Linked DNA regions of Homo sapiens: all the other regions are reported to be linked to region 1. The links are microRNA targets in miRTarBase. Many come from high-throughput screens and were not tested one by one. Region 1 holds a microRNA gene; each other region holds the end of a gene's coding sequence.
Evidence for each region. The annotated mature microRNA hsa-miR-130b-3p reads CAGUGCAAUGAUGAAAGGGCAU and lies in region 1 at 2,237-2,258, shown strand. An mRNA with a match to its seed (bases 2 to 7 or 8) in the 3' UTR can be bound and repressed. Matches are read on the target gene's strand: a 7mer-m8 pairs with bases 2 to 8, a 7mer-A1 pairs with bases 2 to 7 and ends in A, and an 8mer does both.

Region 1 (3,096 bases):
GATAAGATTGTTCCAGGCAGAATGCAGGACAAGGCCAAAAATAAAAACTGTAGTGGCAGCAGAACTCACTTTCAGTGAACACTTACTAAATGCCAGGTGCTGGGCCAACAATTTACACAGCATCTCATTTGCTGCTGGCAACAGCCAGCCCTATGGGGCAGGTTTGATTGCCATCTCAATTTTGCAAGAAGGCAACAGGGGTTCATAAAGATTCAAAACCACCTCTGCCTGCCTCAAAAACATTTGCTCTCAGCCATTGGACCGATAATAAAGCAGGAGGGGTTGCAGGGGCACAGTTGTCTAAGCACAGCTCCTCCCTTCCCTCTAGGAGCCGTTCAACAGCCCGGTGATCAATATACTTCCTAGTCATCAGCGAAGGGTAGGCGCTTAATGAATGCTTCTCCGCAAAGTGGATCACAATCACGAAGAAACCAAAGCTTACACTTCCGTTCCCCATATCTCCCACAGATCCAAAAGACCACGGGGCCCAGGACCCGGTCTCCATAGCCCAGCCATACCCGGGGGTTTTCAGGAAAGCCTCACTCGCGTCCTGCCGGGCGATCCGGGGTGGTTGAGTTGGGAGGGGGGCTACCCCAGTTTGTAAGCCCACCACGTCCAAATATCCCATCCAGGAGGCGCAGAGAGCAACCTCAGCATGCATAACAAAGCAGCCCGCGGCCGCGTTCACAGCAGGCTTGGCGGGGGTTCGGGAATTTCCACAGGGTCTCGGCCTCCCCCACTGTGGGCTCGCGCCTGGCGCCCCTCACCGGGCTTCCAAGCGCTCTTGTCGGTGTCGCTAGAAAACTCGCAGAGATTGGAGCTGAGAAAAGGCGGGCAAAGTTCCTTTTGATAAGTTATGAATGGGGAAAAAGTGTTTGTAGAACTCATTGTTAAAACCACGGAGCCCGAGACTCGGCCGGCGCCGGGCCAATCGGAACCCGGAGGCTATTTTGAAATCTCTCCCGTCTCAGCCAACAGGCATGCAGGAGGCGAATCCCCGCGCCAGCGCCGGCCAATGAGCGCAGCGCTATGCTAAGGAGTCGGGGGCCCGGCCCCTCCGACTGTCAGCGGGTTAAAGATGGAGCCGGCAGGCGAGGGGCCGCCACGAGGTGCAGGGTCGTCTGGACGGGGACCCGGGGGCAGACGATGGCCGGGATCCTCTTCCGTCTAACCCTCCGCGTCCTGACCGGGCCCTGGGCGGAAGGGATGTCTGCGTGAGTCAGCTGTGTCTGAGGAGGGGATCCTGGGCTGGGCTGGGCGGCCCTACTCGGCGGGTCAGGCGGAGGGGCGCGGCCGGGATCCCGGGGGCCCTCTTTGGAGCAGGGAACTCTAGAAGGGCGGGGAGCCCCCATCCTCTGCTCCACTCTGGGCCTCCAGGCAGAAGAATATGTTAGAAAAGAATCCAGAGTGTATCTAGTGCAGGGCAAGGGGCCAGGGATGGAGTCGTCAGCTAGAAGGGGCGCGTCGTCCCGGGGTGGGGCCGCCCTTTTTCTCCTGGAGCCGCGGGCCGAGTCAGGGCGCAGGGTCGTCGGGCTGTACCCACCCCGCTCCGGGCGCTAGCCGGCTTTGGACTGCGGCTGAGTGCGGGTTCGTCTTTGTGTGTGCGCCCCCTCCCCTGCGTGGCCCGTCAGCTCCTGCTCCGGGATTGGAACAACCCCCTAGTCTGGGGTTTCTCCTCCACCTCAATCCGGAGCGTTCTGGGAAAGGCCTGGGTGTCCTGGGTTCTGAAGACCCCAGGGACGCACCCCGCTGCGGTCTCCTTCCCTGCCCGGATGGACTGGACGGGGGCTCTGCCCCACCCACCCATCCATGGTTGAGCTTCCCGCCCTGCGTGTATTGGGGGTGGTGGGGTCCCCCCTGCTGGCCGCAGGTGCTCTGACGAGGTTGCACTACTGTGCTCTGAGAAGCAGTGCAATGATATTGTCAAAGCATCTGGGACCAGCCTTGGGGATCTCCCTCCCTATAACCCTCACCTCCCACTCCCCAGGCAGGGCCCCTTGGGCTTGCAGGCCCTCCCCTCCCCCCTACCCAATTCGCTCCCTTCTCCATGGAAACTTGAGATTCTAGACAGGCCTGGGCCTCTGGGGTCAGAGGGCACCCTTTCCCCCCGGGCAGAGGCCCCGCCCCAGCCAGCCTGCATTCCAGGTCTCAGATCCCTGCAGACCACCCTGGGGGAGGCACTGGCAGGCCTGCCCGACACTCTTTCCCTGTTGCACTACTATAGGCCGCTGGGAAGCAGTGCAATGATGAAAGGGCATCGGTCAGGTCCAGCCTGCTACCCTGGGAGGGGGAAAGGGAGCTTGCTGCCTCACTCCACTTTCCAGTTGAGAAGGTTGAGGTGCCCAGAGGGTAAGTGTTTCCACTGATTAGGCACAGATGTGAAGCTGGACTGGACCCTCCATCAGAGGATCAGGTGGGTGCAGAGCTGGAGAATCATCCCTAAACTCTCCATCCTGTCATGGCTGGACAGGTGCAGGAGCAGACCTCCCCAGCTTCTGAAAAGCTCTTGTTTGAAGGTCTTTCCACATTGGGTCCCTGGGGTAAGACTGGAACTCCAGGCCTGGTCAGGGTCTTAGGGGAAATACACGCCCAGTCTTTTGCATGGAAGATCATTCTAGGCCTGGCTTGGGCCCAGTCCTTGCTGGAAGCTTGAACAGGGCCAGGCTCTGGAGAGAATGTTCTTCTGGGTGGCAGTTGGGTAAGGGGGTAAGGCAGGCCTTTCAGGAGGCAGCCTTCACCCCAGGACGTCAGCTGGAGTGGTACTATGGACTGACCAGTTGACTGATCAGTTGAGTGGACTCAGCTGGAGTGGTACTATGTGAGATGGATGGGTGGACTTGGGATACAAAGCCTGCAAATGATGTCTACCAACCATGCCAGTTTGTTCTCTTACAGAGAGGTGTGCCCTGAACCTGCAGGAGGGACTGAGGTGTCTAACATTCCAACCGTCCCAGCTGGAATACAGGGTTGGAGCTGAACTTCCAAGGAGCCTGACCCCAGGCATGCTTGGATGACCACCTCTACCATCAAGACCTGACACGGTGCAAAAGGTTTCTACGTGCCCAGTCACAGTCATTCAAATCTTCTTTAGAGGAG
Region 2 (3,096 bases), not on the chromosome of region 1:
TTTGGGAAGGGGTGGGCTGCAGGCTCCCTGCTGGAAAGGGCCACAAATCTTTCAGAGGGAGGCCTGTTTGTGACTCTTAAGCGGGCTTGACCTAAAACAGAAAGCTGCTTTCCGAGGGAGAGCAAAATAAGCAATAATCTTGGCTTCATTTATCATCCAGGTGTCGCCACAGGAGAGTAGGGACACAAAAGCCTTTTTTTTGTTTGTTTTGTTTTTGGAATTTGCAATTGTCTATTTTGTTAAGTCTTCCCACTAGGCTACAATCATGAGCTCCTGAAGAGTCAGGTCTGAGTCTTGCCCCTGAAATCCCCAGCAAGCCTAGTACAGGGTCTCAATGTTTGTTGAACAAACCATCCTTTCCAGGTATGACTCCTCAGCTTGTCAAGACTTTGCAGAACCACGAAATCTATCCAGAAACACAGAAAAGAAGAATTCAGAGATAAAAGCATAAAAGAATCAGGTAAGAAAATTACCCAGCAGATATGATCGATAAAAGTTTGGTTCTTTGAAAATACCTCTAAAATAGACAAATCTTTGGCAAGTTTTGAATGAAAAAAGGAATAAAGTGACAATGGGGAGACTTAAGTGAACAGGAGAAAACCATACTCAATTTTATAGCAACAAATTTAAAGCCTAGGTAGAACAGGTGATCTTCTATGAAATTACCAAAGCCCTTCACGACTGTGACTCAATAAAACCTCACGACAGCCCTGTGCCTTGGACAGGCAGTATTCCTACCATGCTTTCTAGAAGAAGGAGATTCAGAGGTGAATACTCAGCACAGGACCTGACAAACTAGCCTACACTGTCTCAAAGGTCATGGCCATGGGAGCACGTGCATACCTACAACATGGAACCACACCACTCTCGGCACTTCCAGCCATCACCTTACATCCGGCTGGTTGGACAGCCAGTCTTATTTATTTTTCCACTTGAAATGCCATAAGGGGTTTCACTATTTTTACTTCAAAAGCAGCACCATAAAAATCCTTGATGATTAGAGCTCCAGCTGTCTTAAGTTGTTTGTCAAGGGATCGGTTACTCAAATCTCCTATGGAGGGAAACAATTTCAGGCAAGAAGCCATGGGAGCTGAGAAACGCAAATGTCTCATCTCTGAAAACTTTCAGACTCCCTCCTGTTCACCGCCTGTCCTGCCCCCTGCTCCCCCTCCCCCATCCCCACCATCTGCTCTCCAGAAAGCAGATCAAATTTTCAGGCTAAGGTACTCTGGCGCCAAAGACTCAGCCCCTCCATGCTTCCCCCTGCCCCCCACCAACTCCGAAATCCAACACCACGACCCAAATGGACTGCAGCCACATAAAACCACAAAGTAAAGTTTATAAAGCTTTATTAAACATTTCAAACAGCTGTGCAACGAACACACCAAATAAAAGCTCTAGAATAGCAGTCCAGACGTTTCACAAGTATGGCCTCACAGTCCCATTCCCTAGATGGACTGCCTCCAGTTCTGTTCTCTGCCTGGCCCATCTCTCTTTCCCCTCAGGCAAGAGAGAGATGGATGGATCAGACTGAAAGGACAGGCATGCTGATCTCCAGCAGGCAGGGGCCAGGAGAAAGTCTCGTTTGCCAACACTTGTTACTGAAGCGCAGAAAAAGCAGCAAGTGACAGTCACAAAGTCTTCCTGGGTATTCTTCATAATGTACAGTCTATATGCGCAGGAACGAAGAAGCTCCTGGCGGGAGGATGATGGCCACTGCTCCCCTCTGTCTTGTCTGAACCACCTCGGAGTCCAGTGTGCTGGTCACTCTGCAATCCCCATGCTAAATAAAAACTGTAGCGGCACCTACCATATATAGCTAGCTATTGCTAAACCTCAAAATCAGACCACGTTCGATAAAGCTTCTTTAAAAGGAATATACACATGTATTTGTACACACACACACACAGGGCACACCAAAAAATATCCAAACATCTATCAAGGGGATCAAGGCCGTTACGAAACACACAGGTACTCTCCCACTCACTCAGCTGGGGACTGCTAGAACTACGTGAACACACCATACTTCAATGCTGCAGAGCATGCACGGGAGACACAATGAGGCCCCCTCCTTGGGACAGTTGAGAAAGGCAGGAGGAAGGGCAAAGGAAGTGAGGCTGGGCGGGAAAGCTTGAGCCCAGACACCCAGGTGAAAGAGCAACATCTATCTGTTGCTTCCTTTCTTAAAAATGAAGTGGAGAAAATACTGAAGATTTGTGGACAACTAACAGTCAAGACATGTTTCTGTCTAGCCTGCTGAACAAGGAAAGAAGGATGAAAAAGCGAGGCTCTCGGGCGTCAGCAATCTCTTCAAATTCGAGATAAGTGCAAAAATGAGCCCTGTCTTGGACAGGTACTCCCCAAAAAAGGAAAAGGGTAGAAGAGAAATAAAGGGAAACCAGAAGAGGGACTGAGGAGTCAGTAACATTCTGGGAAGGAAGGAGACCCTGACAAGGAGGGGTCACAGAGGTGACAATGAGACTGGCATTTTATCTGCCCCAGGTCACATTGGGGCAGCTGACCAGGATGGACCCAGACTCCTCACAGTAATGAGGCGAGAGGGGTGGTCATGCGGCCAGCCAGGACCTAGATGGGGACAGAACACACACAACCACAAGACCACCCACGACTATAGGACTTTACAATAAAAGCACCGGTCAGTGCCATTATTCACATTGTAAGGATAAAACATCACAGGCCAAAAAGGCGCCGTCAGGAATGTGACACCCGCGAGGCTGCGGGATTTGAAACTCCAATGCTTTATGACCTATGTCAATGCCTCCCCTCCCGTCTTCTGCTTCCTTGGAAAGCTAACAGGGCAGGCCGTTAGGTGCCCACAACGCCGGGATCATGCGCCGATTCTGGAAGCGGGGAATCGGAGCAGTGGTACAGGAAACAGTTTCCCCAGCAGCTATAGCAGATAAGGAACAGGGCTGCCAGGAAAACCAAGGCACAAATTGTGCAAGGCTTCCGTTCCAGGAGGAAGCTGAGCAGGTAGAAGCCCATGAACATGGAGTGGCTGAACCACAGGGCGGGGTTGAGGGGCTTGGGGATGAGGAGGACGGGCAGCAGCCACTGGAGGCAATACATGATCTC
Region 3 (3,000 bases), not on the chromosome of region 1:
CAGATGATTCTTGTCATCTCAGTGCCCTTAAAGTAGTCCAAAATCCTAAAATTCAAAGCCAGAAATTCCACACCCATTTAGTAAGCACCTATATATACACCATATATTCTACTACACACAGATTATATATCTAAAATGGAAGGAAATCTTTCCTCTTGTGGGAAAGAGGAAGTGGAAAGGAGGTGTACATCCCAATACATCTACCTACAACTGAGAGAAATTAACTACTATTACCACCTCCCACACCATCATCTTTCCTCTCTCTTTGCGTAGCCTGAGCTTTCAGAAGCACAACTGCAAACATCTCTAACTGGTTCACAGGAATCTATTCCTTGGTCATGTCAAACAAGATGTTATTTATAACCCACACCTCCAACCCTACCTAACTTTGAGTGGATGGGGCAACAATTACGACAGACTCTGCTAAGTTTCCACAAATCATTGGTTTATTAGAAAGTTCCTTTCCCTCATTTTACAGCATATATATCTCTATCATATGTGATAAAGTTAAATACAATCTGTTATGCTTGTAAGTAAGGTTTATTTTTATTTTTACTTTTAAAATCACTATTCTGGAAGTTAAAGAAAATGCCCCTAGGAAGGCAAAGAGGCAGCCAGAGTATGGCTCAATCTACAAGCTAATGGGAAGCAGCACGAAAATGTTAATACTGTATTATTTATTTACATGGGCTGAAAGCAAAGAAAAATGAGTCCCTTCACTTACACAGATGATTTCATTTTTCCAGTGCTAGTTATCCAAGAAGTGATGCTTCTGAATCAGATGAGTACTGAACAGGTAGGAGGGTGGGAGGGCAGTCAAGAGTTGTGTTTGCCTGCCACTTTCTTTTCATAAACTTTACTCTTTTGAGAATTTGCGAAGGCAGGAACAGAGCCTTGGCCCAGGTAAGTATGGTTTTTCTTGTCAAGTGACCAACCAACCAATTCTAGCCACACGAATAGTTAGGAAAATGCCAAAGTGGGAATTGTTAACCTCATCAAAGGAGATGGGACCTGCAACACAAGCACCTTTGGGTCAGTGTGTTAATTAGGGCTGAGAGCCTGGGTGAAAGGCAAGAAGAGGGGCAAAAGAGGCTGAGGTGGTAATTCCTCTTGTCAGTGTCATGGGAGAAAAGAAACAAGGAACGTTTACTGTCTAAACTGAGCTGGGCAGAGGGCATGGAAACTATGAAGCAAAATATCTGTAAATGTGCTCACCTCCCAACAAAAGGAAGACTGTCCCAACTCATCCTCCAGCCTACTTCTACTTCCGTTTCTACCAACCCAAAAGGCACATTAAAAAAAAAATTGTCAGAGGGGGCTAAGTACTAGGAAGGCAAATGGACTGACTGCCTGGAACAAGGTACCCAGGGAAACCCAGGAATCCCCCCAGACAATCACCAAATCTCACTGCTTCCAGACAATAAAGCTGTTGAATCCCCTCCTTCTCCTCTGTGGGGTCTACCTGTTTCTCTGTGTAAAACAGCAAAAGTACATGAGGGAGACTGTTAAAGATGAGCATCCCTCAGAAGCCCCCAGCTGACTGCTGCCCATTAGCTCAAAAATCCCAATACTGGGGGCACTACATACTGCAAATTACTTAACATTTTGTCCCAGCAAAAAATGTTTTAACATTTTATAGTTCATAACTTCAAAAAATACATAAGTTTGGTAAAATATACATGCTTAGTCAGTTTTGCATCTAGCAGAAAACAAATATTTTATTTTTTGTTTTCATTTTATAACCTTTAGAGTTTCTTAATTCAACTAGGGCAAACATATTTACACAAAGCCACCAGAACGAGGATCACTTAAAGAGCTGGATGTAAAAAATATTATTGCAGTATACTACAAATATGGAACCTTTTTTATATGAGCTACAAAAAGCAGCATTTACGTTTATAGAGTTCAGTGCAATTTTTTACATTAAAAAAATCCTATAAATTAAGAAGGAAACATCAACACAACAGAAGAAAATATACCCTTCACTTTAGACACATGAGCTCCTCTCTGGGCCATACAGCTTTTATTCATGATAGGATCTTCTTTTCTGGGATATGGAGATGCCTCTTCTGGGATGAGGGATACCAAGATAACAGTGCCAAATGTGTGGCTCCGTTGATGTGGGAACTGGATGGAATTGCAGCCTGAGTTATATCAGGTTCCAGGTGAGACGCTTTCCACCTCACCTGGGATAACGTAACGTCACCAAAGATGGTCAAAGATACTACCCCAAAATGGTGGCACTTCCACCACTAGAACAGCTTGGCCTTCCCTGTGGCGCTGAGAAGGCAAGACCAGATGGGCCCACAGCAAGTGCTCTGGTGACAACCCACTGGCCAGAGGGGAGGAAAATGTTTTAAAATTTACAGAAGGGAAGAGCAGAGGAAAAAAGCAGAGGGAGGAGGGGATTATCTAAACTTGACAGTTTGGAGATGTTGCTGCAGAGGGGTGGGTAGCACTTACTGGTGTTCCCTAGCTTAGAAACACAGAAGAGGGAGGGACAAATTGAGAGGAGGACAGGAAAAAGAAATCCCTGATAGTAAACTGAAAGCAAACTTCAAATCTAAACCCACCCCTGCAAGCCAAAACTCAATTCTTTGGCTGTCAGACACTGCCCATCCCAGCTTCTACTTGCTGGTATTAATGGCTCAACACCCCCAAGGGAACATTTATGGGTCTCCTCCCCTGGCCCTACCTAGGATCCCATCCCCCAACTCACGTGCCATGGCTGGGGGGATGTTGCAGGTCCTGACCTGAGAAGATGGGGTGAAGTAGTGGGTGAAGGTGAAGTGCAGTGGCAGCTGCTGCAGCAGGCCGTGGAGCAAGTAGGGTGGGGTAGAGGGCAGCATGTGGGACAGGGTGAAAGGTGAAGGGCCCAGGATGGATGGCTGAGGCGGGAATGATGTGGATGGGATGGCTAGCGAGAAAGGTGGCAGGGTGGCCAGGGATGATTGAGTGAGTGAGGTGGGACAAAGAAATGGGGGTCAGATGGGGCTGGGG
Region 4 (3,096 bases), not on the chromosome of region 1:
GCATTCATTCGCCTACTCATGTACTCATTTACCCCTCAGCCCTCACTCACCACTGTCATTCACTCACTCAGTCACCGTTCCATTCATTTATTCACCCGTTCACTCATTCATTCCCTAATTCACCCACTCATCCTTCACCCATTCACTCACTAATTTACACCAAGTCACTCCCACTCATTCAGATACAGGCTGGTCCAGCGACAAGATCATCTGGTAGTCAAAGTCTACACTCACACAAGAAAGAACAAGGCTCTTGGTTTCTGTGACCCAGGCCTCTGTCTGTGTGTCACCTTTGTCACCCGGTCTCCTGCAGTGAAGCCTTTCTGGTGCCAGCATGGTGGGAAGACTGGGCCAAACGGCAGGTAGAGCTGCCCCAGGAGCAGGCTGTGTGCCGGGAGTCCTCCGAGGAGCCTCTGCCTCCATCTTGCCTGCAGCACAGCACGGCCTTCCTTTTGGTGGCACCCATGTCCCCCGACAGGTGTGGCCCGGGAGCCAGAGAGGGACCTGATGCCATCCTGTGCTGTGTCCCTTCCCATCCACCATGTGCCAGGCCTGCTGGACATGGTACCCAACAGCTTCACACACACAATTCGCCCTTGGCCCCAGGCCAAGCTGCTGCAGCGTAACTGACAAGACACACTGATCTTTACATGTGGGTGTTTAATGAACGAGACCATTCAGCACTGGCTCACTTTTTGTGCATATGTGTTTTTTGTAGGGTTTTTGACGGGGGGGAGGTTCCTGTGTTAGTCTGTTTGGCATTGCTATAAAAGAATACCTGGCACTGGGGTATTTATAAAGAAAAGAGGTTTATGTGGCTCCCCGTTCTGCAGGCTGTACAAGCATGGTGCCCGCATCTGCTCAGCTTCTGGGGAGACCTCAGGAAGCTTCCACTCAACACAGGAGGCAAAGGAGGGGCAGGCATGTCACATGGTCAGAGCAAGAGAGAGAGGGGGAGGTGCCAGTTCCTTTAAACCAGCAGTCCCCAACCTTTTTGCCACCAGGGACTGGTTTTGTGGAAGACAAGTTTTCCACGGACGGGGTGTGGGGATGGTTTCAGAATGAAACTTCCACTTCCGATCATCAGGCATTAGATTCTCATAAGGAACACACAACCTAGATCCCTCGTATGCGCAGTTCACAACAGGGTTCGAGCACCCATCAGGATCTAATCCCGCCTCTGATCTAACAGGAGGCGGGGCTCAGGCACTCATGCTCACTCACCACCGCCCACCCCATGCTGTGAGGCCCGTTCCTAACAGGCCACAAACCAGTAGCAGTCCACAGCCTGGGGGTTGTGGCCCTTGCTCTAAAGAACCAGATCTCCCACAAACACCGAATGAGAGCTCACTCATCACCACGGCAAGGGCGCCAAGCCATATTCACCAGGGATCTGTCCTCATGACTCAAACCCCTCCCACAGACCCCACCCAGCACTGCGGATCACGTCTCAGCATGAGACTTGGAGGCAACAAACATCCAAGCCATTCACCAGGGATCTTCCGCCATGGCTCAAACCCCTCCCACAGACCCCACCCAGCACCACGGATCACGTCTCAGCATGAGACTCGGAGGCGACAAACATCCAAGCCATTCACCAGGGATCTTCCGCCATGGCTCAAACCCCTCCCACAGACCCCACCCAGCACCACGGATCACGTCTCAGCATGAGACTCGGAGGCGACAAACATCCAAGCCATTCACCAGGGATCTTCCGCCATGGCTCAAACCCCTCCCACAGACCCCACCCAGCACCGCTTTATCCTTAAAAACAAAACAAGGAATGTAAATGCAAAACTGCCGCGCGGCCTCGCCAGATTCCGGAAAACACCCGCATGTTCCTGTTCAGGGTAAACACGTGGACCCCTGCAGGCTCCAAGACTCAGAAACATTGGCACGGGCCCCCTGGGTCCCGGAAAGCACCCCCACGGTTCCTGTTCCGGGTAACCACATGGACCCCTGCAGGCTGCAAGACTCCGAAACGTCACTGGGACGTCCTTCTGGCCTGCAACCGTCTCCTGACCCTTGCAGGACACACCTTTCTCCAAAGCTGACATGTCACAGAAGTCGCCCCGTGAGTGTTGGGACCGTGAATGTGCAAGTCCCCGTGTTCTGAGCCGCACCCAGCGCGAGCCTCTCCCTCTCCCCAGCATCTGTTGCCCTGCCCCTCCCCGCCTTGACTGTGTCCTGCATGCACCTGAGCTGCTGTGGCTCCGGGACCAGGGGCTACCTCCACTGCCGCATGCTGCCCTGTGGCCCCTCCTCACTGGTGTGGGCTCCCCCTGTGCCCTGTGGCCCCTCCTCACTGGTCTGCACTCCCTACTCTGGCACTTCTCTTTCTAGCACTGCTGCCTTCTGCTGCTTGGCCTCCTGCGGGGAGCCGCGGATGCTCCCTGCTAAGCACAAGCTGCTTCCCCCCACCGGCCCTGTCCCCTCTCACTTCATGATGCACAAGCCAGGCAAAGCCTCAGCTTTTCCATTCGCTCCCGGCCTCGCACTGGGACAGCCTACAGCAGTCACCCCTTGAAGCCCCGGGAGGAACACCCACCCCAAGCATCCGGGCACTCCTTGCGCACTCCAGGGCCTCATTTTGGAATCAAAGCAGGTTTTATGGGTTACACAGACGAGCCTTAGAGCCAGGAAACATAGTGGCTTCAGATGTGTTCACCGCCATGTGGCATCGAGGGCAGAAGAGCAGAGGGCGCCTGGGCCTTGTCCACGTGTCCAAGGTGCACCACCTCCATCATGCCAGCACCTGCAGTCAGTTGCTGTTTGCTGTCGGAGGTGGGGGGTGGGGGCTGGGCTCCCCATGGGCACACAGCCGGCAGCTGCTCTGCTCCCTGCCCTGAGGTCGCGGGCTGTGGTGTGCTGGGAGCGAGGTGTGCTTGGCAGTGGCGCTAGGACGGGTGGAAGTGGTGGTGGTGGTGGTGGTGGTGGTGCTCGTGGTGGTGGTGGTGCTCGTGCCGCTGGATCACTGGCACCGCGTAGCCCTCTCCTGCTGGCGTGGGCGGCAGGTCCCGCACCACCTCGTGCTCCACTGTGGCAGGCTGAGCGTGTGGGGCCTTGAGTGGCGAGTGGCCCTCCCTGCCCTTTTGG
Region 5 (3,096 bases), not on the chromosome of region 1:
TTTTCTAAGCTTGTGTCCCTCCTTGCTTGATTTGCTTTCCTATCCTCTTCTCCCTACCCGGGGCACATCACAAGCTTAATATTTAACATTTAATTAAGTGTTAACATTTTTAGCATAGAAGAGGAATACCTAAAAAGCTAACTGAGGTGTTTATTTATAAGCAAGAGATGAGTGAGCCATAAGTTCTCCTTGCCCTCCCAGAATTGGCGTTGTTTTTCTACTGGGATGTGGCTCAGTTTGTAGATGAATGTGGAGTGTAGAATGGTGATGAGAGAGAGAAGCTGGGATATGTGGGTGGACACGCAGGGCAGGTATGGAGTCCTTTGGGAATTTTAGCGTGGCAAGTATTTGAACTTAAAGTGAAAGATTGTAAGAAATGTGTTTATGTTTCTTTGTTATCCTAGGTGCTAAAGGAAGCTTCCCAGATGAACCTCCTGGCCAGGGTGTGGTGGTACAGGCCATTTCAGTACTTTGAAAAGAATGTCCAAGGAATTGTACCTCGATCTTACCATTGGCCTTTCCCCTGGCCAGTAGTCCACCTCAGTAGGCAAGTTAAATACAGCCGGCTGGTGAATGACACATAACAGCTGTACAAAGTGGGGAAAAGACAAATTGTCCGAAGTGCTAAGAACTCCATGAGAGAAGATGCCATAAAATAAACACCTCCCTAATCCTATTATCTTTCAATGGTTACCTTGACTTAACCTATTGAGTTACCTGGTCAGCACTGTGATCTTTTTTTCTCTCCAAAGGACCTGCGTTGGACAACAATAAAGAAAAATTTAACCTATCATGCACTGTACACATTTCCTGTTCATAAGTTTGGGATTTACATAACCCGCAACCACCATGTTCCTTTGTATATGATGCAGCAGCATAAATGTAAGCTTTTATATCATAAGTTCTGGTCTTTCCAGTCACATCTGGAAATAAAGCGTATTATTTTCTTGGGAAAACATACTTTTCATATCTCTTGCCCCAAAGATTGGGCTGTAAGCCATTTTCTAGCAAATGTCTCTATGAAGGTTTCTAAGTACCTGAATGGGGTTTGATTCTGAAATCTTTCTACCTGTTGCACCGATATTCAAATAAAAATGATAGACACAGAAAGGTTTGGTAACTTTGGGTTTTGTAAAATCAGCAAAGGCAGTGTTTCAAAAAGTGCAAAAAAAAAGATTCTGTTATAAAGTGATTTTCTAAGTATTTCCTAACTTTATTTTTCAAAATGATGTTATGAACACCAAATTTAAAGATTTTTAACATGTCAGAGAGAAGAGAGTTAAAATTTAAAAATGCATCTTGGGAGAGAAATTTGTCTATGTTTCTAGTGCCTTTCTTGTCTTGATTGTATGGTCAGTAGGCAATCTTAAATGTTTTTATTTAAAATAAAGTATTCCTTGAAAATATAAATATATGTATACACTACTAAATTTTGCATTTATAGCTAAATTGAATCAGAAGACTGCTTATGGTTTTAAAATTGCAATGACTTAAATAATGAGGTTGTTAATTAGAGTCAGAGCCTGTTCACATATTGTGATCAGGTAGCAATGACATGTACCACTTAAATTATTTTATCGTCGATTTGGTAGTTCAATTTTAACTACTCAATGAAAACAGCCATGAATATCTTTTCTTAAAGAGAGTTTTGAAAATGATCACTTACCTAAAACTTGAAAGCTATGAATTAGTTATCCATACTCTCATGACAATTTTGTTGGTGAACAACAAAAAAGAGATCTATTTCTTTAAAAGATATTTGTGCAGAAACTGCATGTAACTCTAAGTTTTACTCCTAACATACATATGTTTGGGGAAGTATTCTATTCTATACTTGCCAATGTGGAGAACAAAATAGTTTTTTAAGAATGAAGAAGTATATATATCCATTCTGTATTTTACGTGCAGCAGAATTATCTTCCGTAGGATTTTTTTGTGTATTCACAAGGTGATATTTGTATTGTAAAACAATAATGGTGAAGGAAATAAAAAGGCTTTTAAAATTTTGTTTGTTTTAAATCTTTGTAAAGTTATTATTCCAGAGAGTATACTGGTATCTTACAGCTTACCTAGATCATAAATTAATCAAAATGCACTTTTTAATAAAAACTGATACTTAAAATAAATGGCTGTTATTTCTACTGTGTTCACATTCTTCACAGAAGTCATAAATGGAGCCATTAAAGCAAGATAGAAAATCAGTTTCAGAATTTCTTCATGGAGTGTTTCTGCTTGACATGGGACTTTTAATAATTATCTGGATTTTTTTCCTTGGGATTCCTTAAAATATATTCTAATCTTTAGTAAATTCTAGAGAGTTTTTTAATATATAAAAAGAGTCACATGTAAGTTAAATTCAAACTTTAGAACAATGTTTACTAACATTTTGAATTCTCTAATTCTCAACCAAATTGTTTTTTTTCCTATATCTGGCAGTAATATAGCTTCTCCAGTGTAGATGGAAAGGAAAAGTAAATCCAAAGTGAGAAATAGAGTAATAGTACTATGATAAACCAGTGGTAATGGAAAATAACTATTTAAAAAGAATAAAAGGTTATTATTATTTCTGATGTGGTGACTAAAGGAAAATGTCAACAGTGGAGATGTGTCTTTGATAAAGGATGTGTTAAGGAGGCTAGAAATGTAAAACCAGAGGCCAGGTGTGGTGGCTCACGCCTGTAATTCCGGCACTTTGGGAAGCCGAGGTGGGCTGATCACTTGAACCCAGGAGATTAAGACCAGCCTGATCAATATGAAACCCAGTTTCTACAAAAAATACAAAAATTAACCTGGCACGGTGATACATGCCTGTGGTCCCAGCCTCTCAGGAGACAGGTGGGAGGAGCGCTTGAGGCCGGGAGACAGAGGCTGCAGTGAGCCATGACCGTGCCACTGCACTCCAGCCCCAGCAAAAGAGTGAAACTCTATCTCCGAAAAAAAAAAAAAAGGAAATTAGAACCAGTAAAACTTTTCCTGTGTGGGGCTTTAAACTTGTGTATCAGACAGGGGAAATGTGGTGGCCTCTTTAGGCAAATAGAGCCAAACCCTTGGATAGGTCTTTATTTAACTGTTATAGCCTTTCACTAACTTTGACTA
Region 6 (3,096 bases), not on the chromosome of region 1:
AGAAAAACCATTCCAATGTGAAGAGTGTGGGAAGAGATTTACTCAAAATTCACATCTTCATTCCCATCAGAGAGTTCACACTGGAGAAAAGCCATACAAATGTGAGAAGTGTGGAAAGGGCTACAATAGTAAGTTTAATCTTGATATGCACCAGAAGGTCCACACAGGAGAGAGACCATACAATTGTAAGGAATGTGGGAAGAGTTTTGGCTGGGCCTCGTGTCTTTTGAAACATCAGAGACTGCACAGTGGAGAAAAACCATTCAAATGTGAAGAGTGTGGGAAAAGATTTACTCAGAATTCACAGCTTCATTCTCATCAAAGAGTGCACACTGGAGAAAAGCCATACAAATGTGATGAGTGTGGGAAGGGCTTCAGCTGGTCCTCAACTCGTCTGACCCATCAGAGACGCCACAGCAGAGAAACACCTCTCAAATGTGAGCAGCATGGGAAGAACATTGTACAGAATTCATTCTCTAAAGTGCAAGAAAAAGTTCACAGTGTAGAAAAGCCATACAAATGTGAGGACTGTGGGAAGGGCTACAACAGGCGCTTGAATCTTGATATGCATCAGAGGGTCCACATGGGAGAGAAAACATGGAAGTGTAGGGAGTGTGATATGTGCTTTAGTCAGGCCTCAAGCCTTCGACTTCATCAGAATGTTCATGTTGGAGAAAAACCTTAGTGATGTGATGGTGCAATAAAGTCTTCACTCAGTCTTCATGAATGCAGTCTCATCTGAAAGTTCACAAAGGAGAGACACATTAAAATATGAGGCACATAGTAAGCACTTCCCTTTGAGTATTTTATCTCTGAATCCATGCTGGTGATAAATTTCACCCATTCTTGGAAGAGGGAAAACATTTGTTTAAGATAACATCAGTGCTTCAGCCATAGCTCAGCATGCCCCAGTAGTCTCAGGACCACCATAATGGAGAATCCTTGTAAATGGTGCAATAAAGCTTCATTCAGAAGTTTGATAATTACAGCTATCATTCAGGAGACAGGCCTTAGAAAGAGTAAGAGTTCATGAATTTACCAGACTAATGGTGGACATGTCCAAATTGATGTCCACTAGAATGTAAACTACATGTGTCTTTGCTGCTAAGTCGTCACAGCCTTAACATTGATTAGCACTTTGTATGTGTTCAGTACTTGTTTGTTAAATCAATGAAAGGATAAAACATATGTATGGATTTGGATACAATTTTGTGTATCCAAAAAGGGAAGCCTGCAAAAAATAATTCTGGGAAACATGAGTTGAAATGCAGAGTAAACTCAGTACTGCAATCCATAGCAATATTTTGCATATTATTATTTTTTCTTTTAAATTTTTTTCTTGATCAGATTTATCATATTCATTGAACATTATTTTATTGCACTTGGCTCCTGGCTTCCCCCCATCCTGTGCTCTGAAGTCAGAGTATTATTTGTGGCTCTATGAAATGTCCATTGCTTGTATACGGTATAAATTTAATTATCTTTTGTAGTTTTTCTCACAGTATAGACTGAAAAGGTTTGGTTAATTTTGCAATAACAGACCACTGCATATTTCACAATTAAGTGTTTTCAACAGTATTAAGGCAAGATTTACAGTAACACTTTTAAAGTGCCAGATGTACATTGACAGAAATTTTCTTAGTCAATCCTAGATTGATCATGATTTGTGATTTCTATGCAGGCCTTGGTATGATTGCCTTTTAATTGCTGTACAATTTCTTTTTTTTTTTTAACTTCTCTGGTATAAAATATTCTAAATTTGAATGACAGCTTTTGTCAACCTTCTTATCCAATATTCTTCCACCAACGCTATGAAACAGGAAGAGAAAATGGAGTTTGGTAATTTCATCAAATATATTCATTATTGGGGGCAGGAGTAACATTTAAATCCTCCTCTTTATTGCTGGCAGTAAAAATATGTCTTTTGGAGAGCAGAACATGCCAGAATGTATAAGGTGCAACTGTTTGATATGAAAACCATAGGATAGGAAACTATGCCTATGACACTAAAACTCCAAAAAGTAGAAGACCACATTGATGATGTCACTGCATTTTAAAATGGAAAGAACAAGTGTTCAAGAACAGGAATTTGTGTGAATTGCATTTATTCCTATAATAATATGAACTCAATGAGATGATGACATAGACACAATAACAAAAGGAGAAAAACAATGTGGCTTTTTTTAGCCTTCATAACCTAATCAAATAAATATCTTTGTGTGTTTTATGTTCTTTTGAGTGTTTACATACTGTGTAAATGAATATTTTTACTGATCTTTGCTGGCAATGAGTGTTTGCAGGCATTTTTCCATTTTATACTTCCATGCATTTTTAATTTTTTTATGCCACGATCTTTTAAACAACCAGCTCTTGTGTGAATTAAGAGTGCGAACTCATTCATTACCATGGTGGGGACACCAATGTTTATGAAGGATCTGCTTCCATGACCAAGCACCTTCCAATAGTCCCGACCTCCAACACTGGAGGTCATACTTCAACATGAGATTTGGAGGGGATACATATTCAAACTATTGTCAGATGTTAATTCATCAGGTATACACCATAGTAATATCTTAAGTGTGTTAAGTTAAAGTGATATATTTTCTAAGGTATAGAACAAATAGGGCTTATCACCCCCCTACAAGCAAAGAAAATGTCACAATGCTTAGTGTGCCATTTTTGATATTGGATGCAACTTATTGTTTCGATTGTGCTACTCTGACTTTTATGAGTGACCCAAAAACTTTGACTTGTCCCAGACAAGAGAAGTTTGTGTAATATGTCCCAGCTTCCACGTAAGCTTCTCTGCCACTAAAACCCTGTGACCCCGGGGGTCCAAAAGTGTTTGAAATGTCCGTGGCAGATAGTATGTTTGAAGCCTATGGTTGGCCCTAATTGGAGAATCAAAATTCAGATGCTTAGTATTTTGAAGCAAATTTCTGCCATCCTCTGCATATACTTACTCTCCTCTGGAGAAGAAGCTTTTCATTTTGCTAGGGTGTTTTGTTTTGTTTTGTTTTTGTTTTTGTTTTTTGAGACGAGTCTTGCTCTGTGGCCCAAGCTAGAGTGCAGTGGTGCAATCTTGGCTCACTGCAA
Region 7 (3,096 bases), not on the chromosome of region 1:
CCTTTTGAAAATTACTGCCCTTTGTCATTCTGCCCAGTGTCATCTTCCCCTTCTGCCTCTACCTAAGTCCCAAAGCCATTTTTTCTTGTAATATCCAGGACCAAGTAATTTCCCAAACTCTAGGATTCAGATAAAATTGTTCTAGTAAAAGCCTAGTTCTGGCCTTGGTGGAAATTTCTGTGGATAGATAGAATGTGTATACTATTTTAACATTTGTCCATAATGAACTGTAAAAATTTCTTCACGTTAAAATTAGAGCATGAGCTCGGTGGTAGAGAAAGAAAGGGTCTTTTGATTTTTGTTAGCCTCCCAATTTTCAGTGCTGCTTTCTTAGTTGTTTTTAAAATACTACTTTCAGAGCATCAGGCTCTCATTTCCCACATTGCTTTGAGTACCAGTGCTATTTCTCCCTTGTTGGCTTTTATTCTAATCATAGTCATTAGAGATGACTTCATGATGAGTCTGGAGATGATAAAATGGAAATCTTTCCCTTCCATTTAAAGTATTAGGAATTCTTTATTTTAACTTTTAAAAATAACATCTTTATTTACAGGTACAACAGAATATCTCGGGAATGGACTCAGAAGTATGCCATGTGATGCTACCTTAAAGTCAGAATAACCTGCATTATAGCTGGAATAAACTTTAAATTACTGTTCCTTTTTTGATTTTCTTATCCGGCTGCTCCCCTATCAGACCTCATCTTTTTTAATTTTATTTTTTGTTTACCTCCCTCCATTCATTCACATGCTCATCTGAGAAGACTTAAGTTCTTCCAGCTTTGGACAATAACTGCTTTTAGAAACTGTAAAGTAGTTACAAGAGAACAGTTGCCCAAGACTCAGAATTTTTAAAAAAAAAAATGGAGCATGTGTATTATGTGGCCAATGTCTTCACTCTAACTTGGTTATGAGACTAAAACCATTCCTCACTGCTCTAACATGCTGAAGAAATCATCTGAGGGGGAGGGAGATGGATGCTCAGTTGTCACATCAAAGGATACAGCATTATTCTAGCAGCATCCATTCTTGTTTAAGCCTTCCACTGTTAGAGATTTGAGGTTACATGATATGCTTTATGCTCATAACTGATGTGGCTGGAGAATTGGTATTGAATTTATAGCATCAGCAGAACAGAAAATGTGATGTATTTTATGCATGTCAATAAAGGAATGACCTGTTCTTGTTCTACAGAGAATGGAAATTGGAAGTCAAACACCCTTTGTATTCCAAAATAGGGTCTCAAACATTTTGTAATTTTCATTTAAATTGTTAGGAGGCTTGGAGCTATTAGTTAATCTATCTTCCAATACACTGTTTAATATAGCACTGAATAAATGATGCAAGTTGTCAATGGATGAGTGATCAACTAATAGCTCTGCTAGTAATTGATTTATTTTTCTTCAATAAAGTTGCATAAACCAATGAGTTAGCTGCCTGGATTAATCAGTATGGGAAACAATCTTTTGTAAATGCAAAGCTGTTTTTTGTATATACTGTTGGGATTTGCTTCATTGTTTGACATCAAATGATGATGTAAAGTTCGAAAGAGTGAATATTTTGCCATGTTCAGTTAAAGTGCACAGTCTGTTACAGGTTGACACATTGCTTGACCTGATTTATGCAGAATTAATAAGCTATTTGGATAGTGTAGCTTTAATGTGCTGCACATGATACTGGCAGCCCTAGAGTTCATAGATGGACTTTTGGGACCCAGCAGTTTTGAAATGTGTTTATGGAGTTTAAGAAATTTATTTTCCAGGTGCAGCCCCTGTCTAACTGAAATTTCTCTTCACCTTGTACACTTGACAGCTGAAAAAAAACAACATGGGAGTAATAATGGGTCAAAATTTGCAAAATAAAGTACTGTTTTGGTGTGGGAGTTGTCATGAGGCTGTGTTGAAGTGACTTATCTATGTGGGATATTGAGTATCCATTGAAATGGATTTGTTCAGCCATTTACATTAATGAGCATTTAAATGCAACAGATATCATTTCAGGTGACTTAACATGAATGAATAAAAGTCAATGCTATTGGATTGTTTTTTGTTTGACAAGTGCTATCTGTGCCACTGATTTAACTTCTGTAGTAACAAGGGCATTACCATTCTTCACCTTTCCTAATTCTGATCCCATAGTTTTACATTTTTCCTGTTTATTTTGATTTTGTTCACTGCTTTATTTCTTAAAGTTCTAGCACATCTGTGACTCCTCCACTTCCACATTTTTGCACTGCTTACACTTACGTGCAATCTTATTCCTTGTCTGCACACACATGTGGAAAGCTAGAAATAAATGTTAAAACTTACTTTTTATAAACATTTTAATATGTAGTTTGGACATGATTTATTGACTTAAGGTTCTTCTCTAAACTGGAAGTGAAATGCATGCCTTCTGAAGATGTTCTGGCTTTGTTAATTCTGTAATCATTTCATTGGGGAAAAAACCAGCTACGCAGTTTTTCCAATGAGTGAATTTTTTCATTTTGTGTTTTGCTTAAAACGGCTCCTTCAGGGTAGATGTCATACTGCATAACTTTTTTGGATTCAAATTATGAATGAGAAATTAGTTAACATTCTGCTCCACAAGGTAAGAAAAACTGCTCTTTGGCTCTATTTTCAAAATTACTTCTGAGATGCATATAGTCTCAAAATAACAGCTTTAGTAGGCATATCACTTCTTGAAAGCCAAACATGAGTGTAAGACACTTTTATGAAACACGGTGGATCCCTAACTGGCTTTCAAATTGACCTTTATAGCCTTAGACAACCCTTAGGTATTTACGGAGATGACTTCTTTGATTGTCATAACAATTAGTGGATGTGTCCAGTTCTCTGTATCTTTGACTTGATGCTTTATACATCATTTCATTTGTTGCTTCTAAGGGAATAAGCCATAGAGGCTTCTCCAGGTTTAAAAGAACAGTAAAGTACCTGGAAAACCAACATTTTTGAATGTATGGACACTGGACATGAGATATGTACAATGAAATCTTAAAAGAATCTAAGAATTTGCCCTCTTTGCCCCACTCCACCCAGTAATTTGACATTACTAGTGCCATGTATAGGACCCAACTGAGTATTAGAATCAGTTTTGA

Region 2: the mRNA of BLCAP is a reported target of hsa-miR-130b-3p. Seed matches in the 3' UTR shown: 7mer-m8 at 2,325-2,331.
Region 3: the mRNA of GPATCH8 is a reported target of hsa-miR-130b-3p. Seed matches in the 3' UTR shown: 7mer-m8 at 1,908-1,914.
Region 4: miRTarBase lists NKD2 as a target of hsa-miR-130b-3p. The part of its 3' UTR that is shown has no 7-base or 8-base seed match.
Region 5: the mRNA of SGMS1 is a reported target of hsa-miR-130b-3p. The part of its 3' UTR that is shown has no 7-base or 8-base seed match.
Region 6: miRTarBase lists ZNF224 as a target of hsa-miR-130b-3p. Seed matches in the 3' UTR shown: 7mer-m8 at 1,377-1,383.
Region 7: miRTarBase lists UBE2D3 as a target of hsa-miR-130b-3p. Seed matches in the 3' UTR shown: 7mer-m8 at 2,227-2,233.

What each region holds. Positions count from the first base shown.
Region 1 is chr22:21,651,118-21,654,213 of GRCh38, forward strand. It overlaps MIR130B (microRNA 130b), which reads left to right and starts at 2,187; the gene lies at 2,187-2,268. It overlaps MIR301B (microRNA 301b), which reads left to right and starts at 1,864; the gene lies at 1,864-1,941. It also overlaps the pseudogene LOC107985532. RefSeq lists enhancers at 649-1,319, 1,320-1,991, 1,528-1,577.
Region 2 is chr20:37,516,085-37,519,180 of GRCh38, forward strand. BLCAP (BLCAP apoptosis inducing factor) reads right to left here. Exons shown (of 2, transcript NM_006698.4): 2 at 1,333-3,096. The coding sequence starts at 3,090. The coding sequence ends at 2,827. Among named protein-coding and RNA genes, the nearest start is that of NNAT, 3.6 kb to the right of the region's middle. RefSeq lists an enhancer at 2,511-3,096.
Region 3 is chr17:44,394,853-44,397,852 of GRCh38, forward strand. It overlaps GPATCH8 (G-patch domain containing 8), which reads right to left. Exons shown (of 8, transcript NM_001002909.4): 8 at 429-3,000. The coding sequence ends at 2,716. Among named protein-coding and RNA genes, the nearest start is that of ITGA2B, 6.7 kb to the left of the region's middle. RefSeq lists an enhancer at 2,628-3,000.
Region 4 is chr5:1,038,175-1,041,270 of GRCh38, reverse strand. It overlaps NKD2 (NKD inhibitor of Wnt signaling pathway 2), which reads right to left. Exons shown (of 10, transcript NM_033120.4): 10 at 2,328-3,096. The coding sequence ends at 2,898. Among named protein-coding and RNA genes, the nearest start is that of MIR4635, 23 kb to the left of the region's middle. RefSeq lists an enhancer at 1,866-2,640.
Region 5 is chr10:50,304,630-50,307,725 of GRCh38, reverse strand. It overlaps SGMS1 (sphingomyelin synthase 1), which reads left to right. Exons shown (of 11, transcript NM_147156.4): 11 at 405-2,126. The coding sequence ends at 584. Among named protein-coding and RNA genes, the nearest start is that of ASAH2, 55 kb to the right of the region's middle.
Region 6 is chr19:44,107,600-44,110,695 of GRCh38, forward strand. It overlaps ZNF224 (zinc finger protein 224), which reads left to right. Exons shown (of 6, transcript NM_001321645.3): 6 at 1-2,227. The coding sequence ends at 685. It overlaps ZNF225-AS1 (ZNF225 and ZNF224 antisense RNA 1), which reads right to left. Exons shown (of 2, transcript NR_033341.1): 2 at 1-738. Among named protein-coding and RNA genes, the nearest start is that of ZNF225-AS1, 4.0 kb to the right of the region's middle.
Region 7 is chr4:102,794,918-102,798,013 of GRCh38, reverse strand. It overlaps UBE2D3 (ubiquitin conjugating enzyme E2 D3), which reads left to right. Exons shown (of 8, transcript NM_181891.3): 8 at 554-3,096. The coding sequence ends at 599. All of the region lies in intron 4 of LOC102723704 (a long non-coding RNA gene), which reads right to left. Among named protein-coding and RNA genes, the nearest start is that of UBE2D3, 31 kb to the left of the region's middle.